Linked DNA regions of Homo sapiens: region 1 is linked to region 2. Evidence: fine-mapped expression QTL. A gene starts in region 2. The other region holds a variant in brackets. All regions are shown on one strand. Distances are from middle to middle. Region 1 overlaps EPHA5 (EPH receptor A5). Region 2 holds the start of EPHA5 (EPH receptor A5).

Region 1 (5,000 bases), 100 kb before region 2:
GTGGGAGCTAAATGACATCAATAGTATGTGTTCAGAAATCTTCCCTCTGTTTAAAAAATATCAAAGGCTAATAAATCAAAACAAGTACTATAACATATTCCACAAATACTAGAAATTTTCCTCTCAAACTATTTTTTGCCAAGTATCCTTTATCAAAGGATTTGGTGCTAAGTGTTGAACAAAATTATCATCTGTTGTTCAGCCAACTTACTCTTTGCTATGCTTCACACAGTTTTAAACAAACAAACAAAAAATGATTTCTTTGAGGCCTGATTTTACTTGTGCATACATATTTCACCCTGTATTTCTGTATCACAAATAACTCAAGATAATCATTTTTCTTGCATATTAATTGAAGGTGCTCCCAGGAATACCACATAGACACCAACATTAGTTTCTAAATCAAAGTACCCATAGGAGTTCTTAACCCAAAAGATGCTTTGACTAAAATACTACAACCATATCAACAAATATTTCTAAATGATAGCTCCTATTAAAGTTTAGGTAATTACTGGGGTCCTAATTGCTAGAAATTTAAATATTACATTAGGAGATTGTCAAAATTACTTATTCCTTTTCTTCCTCATTTTCATATGGTTTTGGTTTTTGTGAATCCAGAATTAACCGCCATACGTTTTGCTTTCTAGTGACCTGGCTATGAATATATTGTGACTTTGTTTTTATTGTATCATTTTATAAGCATATGTGCGTGTTAACCGAGCTCAGTCCCTATTTATACCAATCCTATTACTATAAACTTTAAACCCTTCTTAGCTACATGTACCAAGTTATTTAAAAATCTCACAGTAGAGTGGCTTATGTTCTGCAATGTTTTATACATTTCGTGAACTTCCCAACGTTACAAGGGTAGATAAATATCTGTTGTAATGGAAAAAAATGAAGTATTACTAGAATTAAGCAATGTATTTGTATTTAGGGTGATACATATATACTTTTATAGAAACAATTAATAATGCAAGGACACAGCATTACTTATCAGGGGCTTCTATTTCTCATTACTTGCATTTCTAATGCAAAGTGTTCTCTATGGAAATAAATTTCAAAATACTTTCACTGTTAATTTATGACCTAATTTTACACAATTGCATCCAGAAAGAAATCTTATAGTAGTCTATAATTTCCACTTATTCATTACATACAATCTATTAATAAATATTATACAGTTAATTAAAAATAGATAGAGGGCTGGCAGAAGCATATAGATATTTCACAGCAGTCACTTAACACTCTTCATATCCAATTGCAATGTAAGGACACCTCAGAGGGTTCCTTAAAAATTCACTTTAAAGACTAAGACTATTCCCAAATCACCTTTCTATAACCAACTTTTCCAGGAAATAAGATTCAAGGCCAATGGTGACCAATTTGCTAATGGATCAGAGTTAATAGACCTTTAGCAGACTAAATTTTATATTATTATGCAATCTTTTCAAAAGAGCACTTTAACAGTGGTGCCCAATATATTCAATCCAATTTCATTTCAATAACTCTTTTTAAGCCTTCACAAAGTATTTCATTTTGAAACTTCTACCCTTACATGCGAAAGGGACTCACAAACATATAATTAGAAAAGTCATATAAATGTTTTTCAGTAAAATTTAATAAGAGATTTCCAATAAGGCTTAAAGTAATTTTTATTTTGCTTGTACTCAAATTTATTTTATTTTACTTCAGTATTTTTGGTAATAAAATATATTCATAAAAATATAAGATTCTACTTATTACCTTGTTTTCATAAACAATACTTCAAATAATATTCTGCTTTCAGCAAATTTAGAAAATTTGAATATGTGCAAGGCAAAAGAAAGAATAGCAGACAAAAATAGCCATTAAAAAAAAAAGATAATCTGTAAAGCTAGGAGGATGCCAAACTCTAGCTAATACATATTATGGGAAATATATATGTGGCAGTTAAAATGCAATAAAAAAATTACAGAATATAAATGAAATATTAATTTAAATTAAAACTGTTTCTAAGTTTATAATTTTGAATAAACACTTTTTATTTCCTATTCTACTTTGAATA[G/C]GAAATAAACTTGGAGACTATTTCTATCTCATTTTTTTCCTCCCTGTTGATCTTTTCTTCAAATTTGGTATGTTAGAAATGCTGATATTTTATTTAGTCAATTCATGGGTTATAACCTTGAATTCTCCAATTCCTTCAAAATATCCTTTCAAACTTGTCTTTCATAATTCCACTATCCTTGGCATTACAAAGAGACCTCTGTGGGGGCCCTACTTCTACAACATGGAAATATGGTAATTAAGAGCTTTCTGCTCCCATTTTCTCATGACTGTGTAACGTGAAAAACAATGGGGTCTCCTCTTTCTGTTTAGCAATTCCATTCATGCAACAAAGATGTTCAGTGTACATGTCACAATATAATAACAGTCTAAATGGATTAAATTGCAGTGTGTAGCAAACACACAATTCTCTCTGGTAGATGTGTATAGATATTTTGTAGGGAACCACTTAATATTCTTCATATCCAGTTGCATCACACAAATTGACACCTCACATAGTTCCTTAAAAAATCCACTCTATGAAACTAATATTCTTTTGAAATACCTTTCCATATCAATTTTTTCAAGAAATAAACTGTAATGCCAATGGTGAACCATTTGCTAAATCAATTTCACGCCCTTTCTTCAATTCCACCCACCCATCTTCTTTATTCTTCCTTTCTTTTCTTCCTTATTTATTTTATTTTTTTGATGGAAATCTAGAGAGGCAGCAAAGTGCTACTCCAATTTAATTCACAGTAGAGGCACTGAGCGTATGAGCTTTAAGCTCTAAGGTGGTTAGAAACATCTGCTGGTTAGCAATGCCTCTTCCTGTCAGTTGTAAGGCTTGTCTGTATTATGCCACTCATGTTTAACAGAAGTAAAATGCAATTGACAGCATGCTAATTATTACATTTTTTTCTCCCCCAAACTGTAACATCACTAAAGGTCATCCAAAATATATAATGGTTGTTTTGGTACATTGACATTTGTTACATTTCTTTATTTTTTGATAATTTTTAAAAAATTTTTATAACGGAGGCTTGTTTTTGAGGGTAAATAGTGGGAATGTATATTTATGCATGGTCAACCTCTTATAGGTCTTATATACTTAATATAAAAGAACTATACACTATCTGACTACACACACCCATATACAAACACTCCACACTTTTATTTGTGCATTCATCAAACTCTGACGATTAACAGAAACTTAAAAATATTTATTTCTGAAGTGCTGTAAAAGCAAAAAGCAAACCAAAAAACAATCTTTAAGTTCATAGATCTTTATAAGACAAATTTCTTTTTATGTCTTGAAAAGTTGGTTTTTCAAATTATTTTTCTATACAATGCATAAGTCAGCAAACTTGGTAGATAATTTACTTCCAAAAATGAACTTCTTAGTAAACCCCTCTCTTCCGTCATTCAACAAGGTTTCATCAGAGCACTTATATTCTAAGTTTTAATACTTGGTCTTGAAATGCTTATAATATGTCAAACCGACAATCCTCATCATTACAAAAACATATACTATGTACTGGTGACATATTGGTGTATGTAAGTTAATATCAATAACTTCAGAATTTGGCTTTGTGAGTATTCTACCTATTAAGAAAAAGAGACATCTTAAGACAAGGGCTCTGACAAGAAAGAAAAGTAAATGTTCAAGTACAAGTTGGTGATAGCCAAACTGTCAGTATAAAACATACTGTTATTGAAAATGTAATGGAATAAAAATGCCATACTCTTTAAAATGATTTTTACAGAATTTCAACACATATCTAAGTGCATATATCTAAAAGCATATTTTGCAAAGAGCACTAAATACAGAATATGACTGCACCTATTAACCAAAGTGCTTGAGTAGTATGTTCGACTCAAAATAGTGAAACTCAAAATATGTATCAGTGGATCTTTCTACAGTGGGGAGTTTGGAAAAGTCTTTTATAATTGATCTTCTCTTTTAATTGACATTGGCCTATATTGTCAGACTTATAGTCATCCTTTAGTCTGATCCTCCTGTTTAAAATTCTGCCTGCTGATAAACTAATCCTATTCTTTGAATTTTTTTTTCTTCAGGGGCAATAAATTATTGGCTACTTTTCATACTCAAAATGTTGGTGCAGAAAAAAATGGAGATATATTCATGAATAATAGAAATTGAAAAAGTGTTTCATTTTCACTCAAAACCATGTTTAACTTCATGTAAAGGCTCTCTCTTGTTTTGGGTAAAATTTGTAACCATGACCCATATCATTTTATCTGCTCTAGAGAAAATGTGTCTGTTACCTCAGATGACAACTATATTTTTCAAACAACTTTTAATTTTTATTAAAGGTAGATAGCTCATTGAGGAAGTAAAGTACACCCTTTAAAGTGTGGTTCCAATAATAATTGTTGAAGGATAATTAAATAGTAAGTAGGAGAATTGAATATGCAGGTCTTTTTTGACACCTAACACAATTCTATCTCTCAAAATATTGTTGCATTTGAATTAACTATTTCAAATAATCAAAAACTCTGTCCTGTGATATAAAAAAATTAGATTTACTCACAATTTGTTATAAAATATCAAATAATCATATATTTGGACTATAATTTGATTTTAAATATAAATTATACACAAATGTGCAATATAATATTAAAAATTTTTATTAATAATTAACAACAACGCATCCCTTTTTTTTAAACATGTAAGCTTCATCCTCTGATATTGTGTTTTATTTTACATTAAAGGATAAATGAGCAAATGTTGTGAAATTACTATCATCCCATTTTCAAAGAATAAATTATTTTAGGAAGTACTTGTCTTGAAAGGTAAATATGTCATATCAATAGAAATAATATCTTAAATAGTTTATACACTTTTTCAAACCATAACTGATAAAGTGACTTACAGAAACAGTTTCTTACAAATAATAAAACAAAATAAATCTATCTTCAACGAATTTTCCAACTTTATTATTTTTAAGGGC
Region 2 (5,000 bases):
AGAGGTCTCAGGTCCAAGAGGCAGGCGGACAGAGGGGCTGAGCACTGTTCCGGGAGCACGAAGAGCGACACAGGTGTTGCTCCCGCGCCAGCTCTACTCTCCCAGAAAAAGGCAGGGACAGTATTCTGGGTCTGGAGCACAGGATTGGGGGTAGGGAGGGGGACTGGGTACTCCTGGATCAGGTGCTGGCCAGAGCAGGTCTTTTCCGTCTTTAAGACATGCCCAGGTGGGTTTTAGCGGCAACTTCCTAGCAGCGACACTCCCCCTCACCCCTCCTGCCGCGGCATCCCACCTTCTCGCCTTCTTCCACCTTGGCTTGAGTGTGACAATGAACTCCCCCAAGAAGAAGGGCACCCAACTGTGTGGGGCGCCTTCTGTCCTTCGCTATACCCCTCCCACGAGAAATAAAAGCTCCTGCCACCCACCCCAGAATAGCAGCTGGTGATGCCCTAAATAACAGCTCCCAGCAGGCACTTTCCCCAAAAATAAAAGCATCCAGCCACCCCCACAACGTTTCCCATCACTGGCCTCAAATAACGGTTTCTAAAAGCCCCACTGCTCCAGAGATCCTTGTCACTGAGCTTCCAACAGTTCCCACTCCTTCAAGCCCGAAATGTCACTTCCCCACGCGCCTTAAGTGAGGCCCAGCCGCACCCATCCCCCTGGAACGGGCCTCCATTCCCCAAAGGAGGCCTCGACCTCCTTTCCCCCAAGGTTTTCCACCTTCCCAGCCCCCCAACCAGCCTCTGTCCACACGCATGTTCCTTGCCCAGCACTCCGCAGCTAACGTCAAACAATGCAACCAAAAACCGCAGAGGGGAGCGAAAAGGCCAGTGGAAGGGGACGACAAATACCAATTTGAGATGAGACTGCGATTTAGTCTGCAGCAGCAGCGTCCAGCGCGCTGAGACCTGAACTCCCAGGCCCCGCCTAGCCCCTCCGCCCCAGGTCGCCACGGTCCCCACCCCCATCTCCCTACCTTCGTTGCTGGGGCTGGCCAGGAGGGTCCGGAGTGCGGCGCACAGGAGAAGGCACGTCCAGAGGGGAGCCCGTCGAGGTGCAGAGTAGCAGCCGGCCAGGGACGCTGGGGTGATGGGGGTGTCGCCGCCGCCGCTTGGGGGCCGCCGGCGTCCCGCACCCCGGGGCCCCGAGCCCCGCATCTTCTCCGAGCCTCCTCCGGTGCCGCTGTCCCGAGCGGCTCAGTCCACCGCTTCGGCCTCGCAGAGCGGCGAAGGGAGACTCGGGAGTCCTCCTTGTCCCCCCTTGGGGTCCTACGCCTTCTGGCACGCGGCTCCTCCAAATGTAGGAACCACGGATCCGGCTGAGACAGCTGAAGTTTGCTTCTGGCTCCTCTCGCCTCCCCCTTTGGTGGGGTTAAATGAAATATTAGTTCTGGTTGCTAGTGCAGATCTGGACTCGGATCAAGGGTGTCGAGAGGGTCCTGGGTCCTGTTCCTTTGCCTTTCAAAAAGACTTTTTACGGATTGAGAATTTTTAAATACCACTAGGGGAAAGGTGAAGGTTCTTTGCAGCCTTCAGTGTTGAAATGGACGAAGGTAAGGAAGGCAAATCATTTTAAGACGAAATCTCCGATTTTTTAAAAAAGGAGGAAAAAAGCAGGGTGGCTAAGGATAAAGAAAGAGGACTTGAGAAAATGTGGAGAATGAAAAACAGGAGAGCAGCGAGCAAAAGCAAAGATCCAGAGTTCAAAGAGACTGGCAGAAGGAAATAGCTGCGGGCTGAGTGCTGAAGAGGGGAGGGACTGACGGCTGCCGGCCGGTAGGAGCGCGGAGCTGCGCTGCGGCGGCCCAGGAGCTGCTGCGGTTCCCGCTGCTCGGGGAGCAGGCGGTGTGTGCGCGGCTGCGAAGTCGAGGTTGAAACTGCACCGCCAAGGCGCGCTCCTGCTGTGTCTGGAGCTCCGGCGTCTCCTCTGCCTCCCAGCTCAGCGCCTCCCACCCTCCTTCCCTCCTCCTCTTCCCAGCTCCCCCGCCCTCTGCTGCTCGCAGCCTCGCCAGTGAGAATCTACTGTAAGTGTGAGTTGCTTCGACGAAGTCACACACCCACGGAGGGAAGTAATCTGGAGGCTGCCTTGGTGAGTGTTGCCTAGCGGTCTCCGGGAAAGGCGCGTCTTCCTCCCGGGATAATTAGGGCAAGGAATCCTGACGACGCTGGCGAGGACTGGGGTTCCCGGGAGGCGGAAGGGAGATCAGCCCCAGCTCAGCCGGCGGCCCTTAGAGACGCGGGTCCCTCCGTTTGGCATCTTGCCTGCTGTCCCTCACAGGCTGTGGCATCAACAACCTTGTCGTCACATCGCCGCGCATTCGCAGGCTCTGCTGGTCCGTGGCTAGTTTCTTAAACACCCATACCGCTTACCGCTGCTGACTCTTTCTGTTCTTCCCATACTTTGATGGCTGGAATAGGATAATTACTCAATGTTTTCTTCAGAAGTAAATTGTAGAGTAAATAAAGAGGCGGTAGCTCTGTTTGAGATTTCAAGGAGTCAAAGAATTTGACTATTGAGATTTGTAGTGTGCCAGGTACTTTCATAGGTGGCGATTTAATTCATTTATTTCATTGATAAAATGTTTTAGTATTTTAGAAATTGGACGATATGCAGATACACGACATACATTCCAGTGAAATTAGCCTCGGTCAAATAAATTCAGGGTTTTGAAAAATTAATTATTTTAATTGATTGTGCCCTATAGCATTGGGAGATTTACAAACAGTGAAAAAAAAAACAGTTAAAACAATCAACTTTCTATGCTTCACCTCTATTATGTCTTTTCTTGCTTTAGTATATTCCCTCGATTTATTCATTCTTTCAAAGAGATACATTTGAAGGACAATTTTAGTACACAGGCATTTAAAAACAAAAGGCTGCAGAGAAAGCACTTACAGAAAGGTCTGATTATAGAAGAAAGATATCTCATTTAATTTCATGTATAGTAACCACTGTAAAGCTTGGGCTTCCGTTCACACCTAATAAAGGTGAGTCAGCTCACCAGTTTTGACATATCTAGAGCCTTGTTTGTCTCCACAATAAATTCCTCACTATCTTTAGCTGGTGACATTTGTTTTTTGTTTAAATATTTGCAATAAAGATGAAAGAATAAAGCAGCAGTGATGCAATTTTGTAAAGAGGTGAAAGCTCATCTTTGATTTCTTTTTTTCCTGAAATGTTTTGGCACCAGAAGTCTGAAAGCAGGTTCTTTTTATTATAATGTGCTCCGAATGGATGAAGCAAATTTAGAGGAAGAGCAGTGAATCAGTTTCTCAGTTTGGCAAAAAGCCTCACGGGTGAGATGGAAAGTTAAAATTTATGTTTCTATTTGAGGACCATTCAAAATGTAAGCTCCCCTCTCCCCTACAATTATAATTGAGTTACTTAAAAATATTTAAGCAGAATACCAACTACGATATCTAAAGCCCAGAAATATGTAGTAAAACTAATATGAGTTTAATGGGGCTTTGAGCTCGTTCCTTTACTTCTACAGGCTTCAGTATCCTCATCAGTAAAATGAGGAATTTGGAGAAGACAATCTTCAAGCCTTCTTCCCTTCCGTTGGTTGCATGTCTATGTGACTACCCTGTTCATCTATCTCCAATTATTTACTATTGGCCACAAAATAACCAAATTTTTCAGCCTAGAATTTAAAGCCTTCTACTACAAATGGTTTAAATATATTTTTTATTCTATACTACAATGTTAAACTCATTTTTCCCCTAAATTACCTCATGCCTCTCTGATTTTTCTACCTGTCATTCCATTCTAAAGAAATCCCACCTCTGGAAATATTTATCCGCCCCCCACCTCACCCCACCACAACACACACACACACACACACACACACACACACACACACTACTGTCATCTAAATCATACCCAGTGTCCTAGGAGAGCCAGGCACTCAAGATTAAATTCTTCTTTTCTCAACAAAAAAGTTACTTCGTTCTCCTCCTCAAAGTACTCATAGCTTTACATAAATCAACACAATGCCAATATTTTCTGAATCAAAGGTGGAATAAAATTGTCTAACTATATCTAAAGAGAAGAAAGACAGAATTTAAATCTGGTTTGTCAAAGAAAACCTGGGACGCTGGTCAGCATGGGCATAATTGTGTTATCTTCTCCCAACATAGCTAAGTTACATGATTGAGAATACAGAAAGCAAAATTCTTTGTATTCTCCACCTTAAATTGCAGCCATCTTTCTCATAGTTCTTTAATAATATTGATTACACATCTCTGAAAGAATGAACAGCTGTAAAGTTCATTGAAGCTGTAAAGTTCATGAAGTTCTGATGACAACAATGAAAATCATTTTTTGATCTAAGGAGGGTTAATCAGAAAAGGTAATGATGGTGGTTTGACTTGGACTTCAAGCTCAAAGGAGATTCACATTTGGCCACGTGTTGATGTCTTGGCATATTAATACTTTTTATTTTAACACAATTACATTGAACCATGGCATTGCATGAAAACTAGATTTGGTTTATATTTTTCTTTTATACTTATTGTTTTGCACAACAAAAGGCCATGCCATCAATATTGGTTTTGGTGCCCTATTGTTTGCATTTCTCATTTCTTGGAATAGCTACTATGACCTTAAAAGATGCAAGTGGTTAGTGTCTCCCAAGATCTGTGCTTTTGTGTGACTTCAGTACTAAGTATTCCTGAAGGAAGGATATTCAAAGTAACCTTGATAAGGTGCCTTGAAAGTTTACTAACCTCATAAAAAGTTTTAATATTATAGTTAGGTTCAGTGTATCAATAAGCCCAAATGTATCTTCCCTGCATTCAAAGATTCAAGAAAAGCAATTTTGACAGAAAGCCTTGCTAGTTTTTCCTGAAGATTTGCTATGTGTAAAGCATTATGTGACGTTTTTACCTTAACTATTTTACTTAATGCTGACACTTCAACCCTGATGTTGGTGTAATTATTATCCCCATGTTAATGATGAGAAAACTGAGGAAATGAGATTAGGTGATCCAAGTAGT

What was found. PIP is the estimated chance that this variant, and not a neighbour inherited with it, causes the effect. A credible set is the group of variants that fine-mapping cannot tell apart.
Region 1: its variant is the best candidate, but not a certain one, in a credible set for the expression of EPHA5 in tibial nerve (GTEx, PIP 0.67).

The regions. Positions count from the first base shown.
Region 1 is chr4:65,563,840-65,568,839 of GRCh38, forward strand. All of the region lies in intron 3 of EPHA5 (EPH receptor A5), which reads right to left. Among named protein-coding and RNA genes, the nearest start is that of EPHA5-AS1, 100 kb to the right of the region's middle. The variant G/C (reference allele first, on the strand shown) is at 2,048.
Region 2 is chr4:65,668,583-65,673,582 of GRCh38, forward strand. EPHA5 (EPH receptor A5) reads right to left here and starts at 1,907. Exons shown (of 17, transcript NM_001281766.3): 1 at 980-1,907. The coding sequence starts at 1,160. It overlaps EPHA5-AS1 (EPHA5 antisense RNA 1), which reads left to right and starts at 1,379. Exons shown (of 4, transcript NR_034138.1): 1 at 1,379-2,091; 2 at 3,194-3,299. RefSeq lists an enhancer at 1-56.